2 separate regions of the Homo sapiens genome follow, and region 1 is linked to region 2. Evidence: fine-mapped expression QTL. Tissue or cell type: whole blood. Region 2 holds a variant in brackets; the other region holds the start of a gene. All regions are shown on one strand. Distances are from middle to middle.

Region 1 (5,152 bases), 190 kb before region 2:
AGATCATTAGGAGAATTAAATAAGGTAATGTATTGGGTAACATTTTGTAATTGTGTGCTACTGTGTAAGTTAAAATTGTATGAAGGTTTAATAAAAGGAATTGTTCTTTAAGACTTCAAGGACTTTCTGTCAGAAGTTGAAACTAGAGGATTTACCAGGATGTTTCTGGCTCTATAGGGGTCATGTCCCTTTCCAAGATGCCTCAGTTGACCAGTAAACACATTCTTTTCAAGGCTTAATATTAAAATAGTATCAAATTCTGATCTAATCTGGATCAGAAGAGAAAATACTCCAACCTACCATTGTCAACCGCAACACTGGTTGTGTTTAATGGTGATGGAATTCTGTCACTTCCACCAACACTTTTTGAGCATTCGCTGCATGCGGGGCATTCTGGTGTATACTGATAAGAAACAACAACCAAAGATAATTAAGATTGACCTCACCCTCCGAGATGTTTACAGTTTACTTTGCTTCCCTAAGCTTCAGTTTTTCCCTCTGCCAAAACAGAAGCTCGGAAGAGATGTCTCCAAGACACTTTCTACCATGACCTTTTGAATTTCATAACTCTCTAATTCCAGAATTCAAAGAGTGACTGTTTTACCTCCCACTGAATGATTCCTCTGAGAAAAAAGCTCTCTGCTAGCTAAGCTAGCCAAGACACCATACCTGAAGATAATACCTAAACTTCTGTTTGTGTCCCAGGAATCCCAAATTGATGTCACACCAAAACAATGTCATTTATACAATTCATTATATGTCACTCATTAATACATTTGCTTAGTTGATTTTCATTAAAATCCTGCAGGGAGCATTATTACACTCATTTTTCAAAAGAGATAACTGAGTCGTAAAAGGATTAAATTATTTGCCCAGGTCACACGGAAAGAAATTAACGTGGCCACGGCATAAAACCAGATTTTCTGTTTTTAAACATATTTTTTTCGCTGACCTCCACCCTGTAAGAGCTTTTATTACCAAGCGATTGAGAAGCACAGGCTCAGGGACACTGAATTTGACCAAAGAAGCCAATAGAACTATTCCAAAAACCTATGGTTCCCCCTAAAGCATTAGAAAGACTCAGAACGGGTTAAGTGCTCCCTGGCTCATTCCCAACAGACACTACATTCACCTGTGCTTGCTCTGAAATAAATCAGTGTCCCTTTCTGCTGCTGCTGTTGTCTGGAAATAATGCAAATGCAATGGGCCTTTACTGACATTGTGCTTCCCTGGAAGGATACACATAATAAATTATCCCTTAATACTGTTAAAGAGACATTTTCCTCTTACTCAGGAGCTTTTGGGGTTGGACTGGGCTACTCACCCAGCAAGGAGGAGGACATGTGTCTTGTCACTGGCCCGGTTATTCATGTGGCCTCTCATTGCTCCTTGGCTCACTGCATTGCAAGATTCAAGGATGCACTTCCAGGCCTCCACATCAAGTCATAGGACTTGCCGGTAACCTAGATTGGTTTTCTCATTTGTAATTTGAATTTATTTTATGTTATGCATTTGTATGTTTATTTATTCGGATGCTCAGAAGCTGAAGATAACTAGTGCTCCTGGTCCATGCCATTCATCAATTGGAAGAATGCCAAGCTGTTTCCGCTGAGGACAGAAGGCATTGGTCTCCCCTGCAGGAAGCCACTGCTGCTCCTTAATTGTTTGCTAGAGGAAGAATCAAGGGTAAAATTTAAAGTAAATGGCTGGCCGAGTTGCACTAATTCATCAAAGCATGTTTCAAGTCAGTAGTCAGAGCATGCATCAGCCCCCGGCGCCACCAGCTTCTACGAGAGTGGAAAAGCCAGCAGACCTCCGAGCAGATGAAATCATTAGGAGGCATTCAGCAGGGCTTGAAAAGCAAAGAGAGAGGAGGCGGGGATTTCTCTGCATGCTCCCTTTGCCACATGGGAAACACCAGCTGTCTGTGACCTAGTTATCCAAGAAAGGAAACACGGAAGAGAACCCACAAAACTGTTTGCTACATGAGAACCCCATTCTCCAAAGACATGCTGGATGTTGAGAAAACAATTAGCATCTTCTAGTTTGACTCTATTTTTTTTTTTTTTTGCTTAGAGATTTTTGGTAGCAATAAAGACAAGCCCTATTACAGTAGCCTAAGAAAATGGAATTTTTAGGGATAGCCCATGGATAGGAAGTAAAAATCTTGGTTCATGAAAGATGGGAAGTAGGAACTGGAATGTTTTTGGAAAATCTATCAGCATCTCACCTCTTTCTCTTGCTCTCTCTCTCTCATTACATGGCCCTTTATTTGTGCAACAATTCATTTTCCTACTTCTCTATGAAGGTCTCTCTTCTTGCTTTTAAGCATGAAGCCACTCATTCATTCAGTAAATATGTATTTAATGCTAACAGGTGCTGGCACTGCCCAAGATGCCAGGGCTACAGCAATCAACAAAACAGACAAAATCCCTGCCCTCGTGAAATGTACACTGTGGTGAGGCAGGTGAGGCAGGCAGAAACTGAACAAGATAAATAAGTAAAAGATACAGTGTGCAAGAGGGCAGTGAGTGCTTGGAAGAAAAGATCAAGGGAGGAGAAGTGAAATACTGGCAAAGTAGTTGAAATCTTAAATAAAATGGTCATGGGAGACCCCACTGAGAAAGTCATTTCTGAGTGAAACCTGAAGGAAGTAAGAAGTTAGCATTGCAATTGTCTGGGGCAGAGCATGCTGAGGAGAGGGAATAGCAGGTGCAAAGGGCCTGGGGTGGTTCAAGGAGCTAGCAGAGAGGCCATTGAGGAAGGAGGTTAAGCAAGTGAGGGGGATTAGTTAGAGGTGAAGTCATAGACCTGGGGGCACAGATCACAAAGCGTTTTCTAGGTCATAGTGAGGACTTTGGCTTTTACTCTGAGTGAGATCAGAAGATCCCAAAAGGCCACCACAAGATGATATTCACGTGGTCCACCTAATCCAGTAGTCAGTCCTTATTGCTAACTTGCACACAGTCAAGCTCCCTTAGTCTCCAAAAGAGGAGATCCAAGCAACGATACTTCATGAGCAGTCGGCTTCGAGAGTCATCCTGAGTTTTCAAGGCTGACACAAATATCAGTCTAACTACGCAGTCCACCTGTGTAAATATTTGGGGAATAGTGGATGGTTAAGGAAGAGACCTAGTATGAGATAAAGTGTCCAGGCCCTGCACACATTTGGGTCTCACAGAATTAACTGGCAAATGCTAGTAAGAGTATCAGGACCTTAGGAAATAGAGATTCCTTTAGAAAACTCTAATTCCCAGAAAGATTTTCACATAAGACCTTCACACAAAGACAAAATTAGAATGTGTGTTCTCTCACCATCTCCTTATCCAGAGAGTCCTTAGATGTGGCAGAAGGACCCACAAGAGTTGTCAGAGGCAGTTGTGAGGGGTTGCCAGTCATGTTAGTATTAATAGATATCATGAGAAGTTAGACACGTTTTTGAATAAATTAGAATGAATTAAATATTAACCCAAAATGTCATTATGCTCACTCCCTACCCTCCCACTATGCTTTCCTGACAGAGAAAGAAAGGGTGGCACTGTGGCTGGAATACAGAGCCCACAGGACTTCAGCATGTCCTACACATAAACCTCCTCCTTTTTGTGACCCTTGGTGGAAAAAGTATGAGAGCCACGTATCTTAGAAATAACTGCCTTTCCTCCCTAGATGCCTGCCACAAAAACAGACATGTTCTAGAACTTTCTTCTCCCTAGTTCCAAGAACACTGAACTCATGGTAATGGCCAAACAATGATCTTTTTCTAAGGACAATGTCAGAATGCTTTACTGTGCCATTTTCATAATCAGACACAAGAAAGTTACCATCTGTAGTTCAGCCATAGCACTTCACATGAAAGAGGAAATGACTAAATATATATTTACATAGCTCTCATGAATATGCATTTTGTAAATGCACAAATATGTACAATTACTTGATAGACTGTTTTGGTTCCTATCTTTCGAATATTTAATACAACTGTAAATGTTTAATTCATATTTACTGAGTTGATTGAACAGTTTCTAAATTATCCCAAGCCTTGCTGGAAACAAGATTGAATGTTTCCAGCATATTTGCACACTAGGATTTGGCCAGGAGAATCCACACTAACTGGTTAAATGATGATTTTCTTAGAAAGCATATTGAATAAGCTGCTGGTGAAATCATCTTGCTGACCACAACATAGAGGGACAGCACCAGATCTAATTCCAACCATGACCTGCAGAGCCTCTCATGACTAGGCCCCCCTGATGCCTCTTTGCACCTCTGTCTGCACTGCCCCTCATTGCTAAGCCACAATCAACCCATGTTCCACTTTCAGTCCTCTGCACCAGCTGCTCCATGTGTCCAGAATGCTCTTCACATAGACATCAAGCCTTTGCTCTAATGTCACCTTTTCAATGAGGTCTATCTTAACCTCTGCATTTGAAATTGCAATCCCATCATCCCCCAGAACTCCTGATATCCCCTACACTCCCTTATACTTTTTTGTCTATAGCAACCACCCCTCACCACTTTATAACATTTATGCTTTGTAGTCTGTCTGTGTCCACTCACTAGAATTCAAATATCACAAAAGCAGGAGTCCACTTTTTTTTTCATTGAAAAACTCCAAATCCTAGAAGGAAGCTGGCATTTAATATGTGCTCAATAGACATTAGAGGAAGAAAAGAAGGAAGGAAGGAAAGAAGGGAGGGAGGGAGGGAGGGAGGGAGGAAGGAAGGAAGGAATGAAGGAAGGAAGGAAGGAAGAAAGGAAGGAAAGAAAGAAAGTCAAGAGACCTGGGCTCAAATCCAGCATGGGAATAAGTAGGGAGGAAAGAAGGGAAGTCAAGAGACCTGGGATCAAATCCAGCTTGGGCATGAGGCAAGACCAGAGCAGAGGAGATTGTCCTTGAGCTCAGGTGACGCCCATCTGGCCAACTCTCCACAAAGCTGGGTCACACTGTTTAGAGGACAGTTCTTGGCAGTAGTAGTAGTGCTGGTGGGGAGGGCTTTGTCATTATATTGTGTGCGTGTGGTGTGGGACTCTTCCTTAGTTCAGCTAAAGACAAGCTCCCTGTCACAAGGCCATGAAAGATTAGGCTCGCAGACAATTTGAAGGGTGAGAATAATGGGATTTATTGAGCAAAAGGAAAAATGGGGGCAGAACAGGG
Region 2 (5,152 bases):
GAAATACAAAGAAAAACCAGCCCTTATTTGCCTAAAGTCCTCAGACAATTGTGTGTGTTGTGGGCTTAGACAGTATTAGGTTGGGGCAAAAGTAATTGCTGTATTTACTGTTAAAATTAAAGGGAAAACTGCAATTACTTTTGCACCAACCTAATAGAATTTTTCATCCTAGAACTACCTATCTTAGATTTCCTGGGAAATTTCTCTGCCCTCAGCTTCTTTTTTTTTTGCCAACACAGACCCACCCAGAGATGAAAACATGAATGTTTTACAAGGATGCTTGGTCATTAGTTTGTGACTCACACTGGCAAATTCTAAACTTCAGCTTGCTACCTGGGATACCTGCATGCATGCAGTTCCTCCAAACCTTTGGCCAAGAGCTCTTCACTTAATATTTTAAAGAGATTTTTGTTTTTAAAAAGAATGCATTTCATTTTTATTTTTTGAAATGGATCTCGCTCTGTCGCCAGGCTGGAGTGCAGTGGTGCAATCTCAGCTCACTGCAACCTCTGCCTCCTGGGTTCAAGCGATTTTCCTGCCTCAGCCTCCCAAGTAGCTGGGACTACAGACATGCACCACCCTGCCCAGCTAATTTTTGTATTTTTAGTAGAGACGGGGTTTCTCCATGTTGGCAAGGTTGGTCTTGGTCTCTTGACCTCGTGATCCTCCAGCCTCAGCCTCCCAAAGGGCTGGGATTACAGGCCTGAGCCACCGTGCCCAGCCTTAAAAAGAATGCATTTCTTTATAATTGTAGAATACACACAAAGACACAATGAAAAAAACAACCAAGTGTTAATCCGTGTTTGTTTCCTGTACTTATATACATGTATATGTAGTTATCAAGCCAGGCGCGATGGCTCACGCCTGTAATCCCAGCACTTTGGGAGGCGGGTGGATCATGAGGTCAGGAGATGGAGACCATCCTGGCTAACACAGTGAAACCCCGTCTCTAATAAAAATACAAAAAAAAAAAAAAAGAATTTAGCCGGGCATGGTGGCGGGCACCTGTAGTCCCAGCTACTCGGGAGGCTGAGGCAGGAGAATGGTGTGAACCCGGGAGGCGGAGCTTGCAGTGAGGTGAGATCACACCACTGCACTCCAGCCTGGGTGACAGAATGAGACTCTGTCTCAAAAAAAAAAAAATGTAGTTATCAAAATACATTTACGCTGTGCATGTATATCACTTCTTATGTCTGGAGTTCTACTATTGCTGGATACGTGCTTAGGACATAGCCAGGGAAGCAGCAGGAAGGTGTACACTCTGGAAACTGACATACTTCAGACCAGTCCAAACTCTGATACTTGGTGGCTGAAGACCCTAGTTAAATTACGTAAGTAAAGTGATGTTCCCCCATACTCTGCCAGGACTCAGGGACTGTCCGAGTTTACACCTGCTGTTTCAGTGTAATTAATAAGAACATCCCTTTAATGCTCAAAATGTCCCAGTTTAAACAATAAGTTATATGGTCCTTCTATCCTTCACCCTGTGAGCTTTGCTTTTCTCTACTGTAAAAATATAGAAAACAATATCCATTTCCAAAGAACTATTATGGGAATTCTATTAATTATCTTTGCTGTGTAACACAAACTACCCCCAAATTTAATGGCTTAAAACAACAAGCACATTTTTAACTCACATATGTTCCAAGGATCAGGAGTCTAAGCATGGATGAGAGGGTGGTTCTGGCTTAGGGTTCCTCCTGAGTCCTCTGTCACATTGTCACCTAGGGCTGCAGTCATCTGAAGGCTGGATTGGGCTGGAGGATTTGCTTTCAAACCCATTAACCTGGCTGCTGGCTGGAGGCCTCAGTTTCTCACCATGTAGGCTTCACCTTGGGGCTTCTCATGACATGTGAATGATCCAAGAGAGAAAAAGAGGGAACACAATGGAAGCTGCCAATATTTCTAATCTCAAAAGTGAGAACGCAGCCTGGTGCCGTGGCTCATGC[T/C]TGTAATCCCAGCACTTTGGCAAGTCAAGACGGGAGGTTTGCTTGAGTCCAGGACTTCGAGACTAGCCCTGGCAACATAGTGAGACCTCGTCTCTGCGAAAAAGAGAACTAACCAAGTATGGTGGCATGCACCTGTAGTTGCAGCTACTCAGGAAGCTGAGGTGGGAGGATTGCTTGAGCCCAGAGGTCGAAGCTGCAGTGAGCCGTAATTATGTCACCGCACTCCAGCCTGGATGAAAAAGCGAGACCCTGCCCTTTAAAAAAAAAAAGTGAGAAACCACCAATTCTGCCACATAGACCCACCCTGGTACAATGTGGGAGGGGACTACACAAAAGTGTGAACACCAGGAGGGAGGCAGGATCACCGGGGCCTTCTTCAAGACTGGCTACCACAGAACTTAACGTAAATACTGCTTGTAAAGTCCCTGGAACATAGCAGACATGTAGCCAATGTTAGCTACTTCAGAGCAGGATCAGACAAGAAAATCTTCTAAAAATAATAGGCAGCCCTGGTAAGTTCTTCACAGCTAAGGATTTAAATATTATGTCTTTCTTATAAGCCAATTCAATTCAGTTCCACAAATATGTATTATATACCTACTGCTTGTTATTATGTCCTTGAAGCCAACGGCAATTCACAACTAACTACTGAGTTGTTGTAGATCCTTAAACTCATTACTTATATAAACAAAAAGGTACTGTTTTCTAATTCAAGATGTTTCTTTATATTCTTAAACTTCTGAAGATGTAATCTTAGCATGTCATTTGAGTGTCGCTGTCAGAAGCATTTGATGTTTACTCCTACAAAGTAAGACTAACAGAGTTTTCTGTAGTCAATGCACAAATAAGCTAATTTGCCTGGTGTTTGAATATACATCATATTGAAGTCAAGGCTGCAATTCTAAGCATGTAAGAAGAAGAAGAGAAGTTAAGTAAGAATTCATCTAGCCCTATGGTGGACACAGTCGTTGATGCTTAAAAACAATGAGTTTTGATTGAGCTTACAGAATCCATTCAAAAGGTAAGCTAAACTAAAATTTCAGACTTCAACACTAAACAATTCACCCATGTGACCAAAAACCACTTGTACTCCAAGAGCTATTGAAACAAAAATGTGTTTTCTAAAAAAGTGAGCAAAACATATTACCTCCACTACCTGGGGCTGCAGTCATCTGATCCAAGTTACCATTACATGAATTATTGTGATAATTTTTCAGCTATTTCCCTTTCCTTCTTCCTTTGCCCTCCACCCTACCTATTCTCAACACATCATTCAAAGTGACCCATTTAAATATATCTGATCACATCATTCCCCTGCTCAAAAACTCCCAATGGAGTCACAGAGGCATTGATGCCCTGGCCATATCCATTCTGCATTCAGCTGTGCAAGTCAATTAGGCTCTGCAACCCTCTGCCTCAGGGCCCTTTTCCTGGCTGGAGAAGCACACATAATCAAGTCCAGGGCAAACAGAATGTGCCAGATAGTTAACACCTTTGGACATGGCCTTCAACCACCAATGGTCAGAGAGCCGGTGGATCAGTTTCCCAGGTCCTTCGGCCTGGGTGGTGATGACATGCAAGCATTCTCTACACTGTCTCCCAGTGGTCCCTTGCAAGACAGAGTTGCAGTTGCTTACAATCGCAACCAGCTTGATATTACCCCTTTTACTGGGTTCTTTTTCTTTCCTGTCTTACCTCTCCACACCTATTCTGGTGCTTCCTGGAATCACTTTCCACATAAACTACTTGCATTCAAATTATTGTCTCAGGATATTCCTCTGGGTGAACCTCCACCCAAAAAAATGGCTTCCCCTTCCAGGGCAAAGGCCAGAGTCTGTGCCGTGATCCATGAGGCCCTGCACACTCTGCCCTCCTATCGTTCTTCCTCACGTTCACTACACTCTAGCCATCTTGGTTTCCTGGATGTTCCTGGAACATTCTAAGCATGCCTTCAACTGAGCAGCTTTCCTCCCTGATTTCCTGTTCCTGAGATATTTGCTTATGTTTATATGTTATATGTTTATAGCCAACACTCTACCACCAGCCCCTCCAAGTAGAATATAAACACAGAAAGGAAAGTGACTTTGCTCTGGGTTTTTTCTTTTCTTTTTTTTTTTTTCCTTTTTTTGAGATAAGGTCTCACTCTGTCACCCTGGCTAGAGTGCAATGGGGTGATCTTGGCTCACTGCAACTTCCGCCTCCAAGGCTCAAGCAATTCTCCTGCCTCATCCTCCCAAATAGCTGGGACTACAGGCACACACCACCACACCCAGCTAATTTTTGTATTTTTAGTAGAGATGGGGTTTTCATTATTTTGGCCAGGCTGGTCTCAAACTCCTGAGCTCAGGTGATCCACCTGCCTCAGCCTCCCGAAGTGCTGGGATTACAAGCATAAGGCACCGCACCTGGCCTGCTCTGTTTTAGTCACTGCATCATTTCTAGTAATTAAAATAGTGCTGGATACATAGTAGATGTTCAACAGATACTTGTTAAATTATTGAATTAAGGATGACTTGAATGAAACCTGATTAGGTCCAGTAAAAATACTTGTGAAATACCTGCCAGGCCCCTAGCTGTTATTATTGGCGCCCCTGCAAGGAACCTTCTACTTCACCATGAATAATCCAGTCTTTTCACTTTCCACATGATGAGGACCAGAGAAGGTAAGCATGTTGCCTAATATTACAGAGCTCCCCAGTGGCAGAGCTAGGAGCAAACTCTAGCTCCATCTGGGTTGTGGAGGGATGAGAACCAGTCTGTCTCGGTTTAATCTCAGGTGTACCACTTATAAGCTTTGTAACTTGTAAATAACCCAGGCAAATTTCTTAACCTTTCTGAGAACCAGTTTTCTCATCGGTAGAATCAGATGAAGCACCCATTTCAACAAATTCAGATGATTACACAATATAATGAGTATAAAAGAGCTTGGCACATAGTACGTATTTATTAGGTGCTCATTGAATCTAAAGAAGTACTAACTTAAAAACATTCAGAAGAGCAGGCACATGCTTACAATAATAACAGTAATACTTTATTGGGACTAACCAAGTCCAAAGCACTATGCTAAGACATTTTACATGCCTTATTTCATTCAATCCTTACAACACCCTCTGAGGTTGATTCTAATTTTATCTCTTTCTACAGTTAAAGAAACTGAAGCTCAGAGAGGTTTTCTAACTTGCCCAAGATCACTAAGACAAAGG

The links. PIP is the estimated chance that this variant, and not a neighbour inherited with it, causes the effect.
Region 1: it holds the start of CASC8, and the variant in region 2 is fine-mapped to the expression of CASC8 in whole blood (TOPMed, PIP 0.93). The same link has a PIP of 0.9 or more in blood mononuclear cells.

The regions. Positions count from the first base shown.
Region 1 is chr8:127,479,404-127,484,555 of GRCh38, forward strand. It overlaps CASC8 (cancer susceptibility 8), which reads right to left and starts at 2,736. Exons shown (of 6, transcript NR_117100.1): 1 at 2,231-2,736; 2 at 1,325-1,668; 3 at 301-403.
Region 2 is chr8:127,672,833-127,677,984 of GRCh38, forward strand. No RefSeq gene overlaps it. Among named protein-coding and RNA genes, the nearest start is that of CASC11, 59 kb to the right of the region's middle. The variant T/C (reference allele first, on the strand shown) is at 1,950.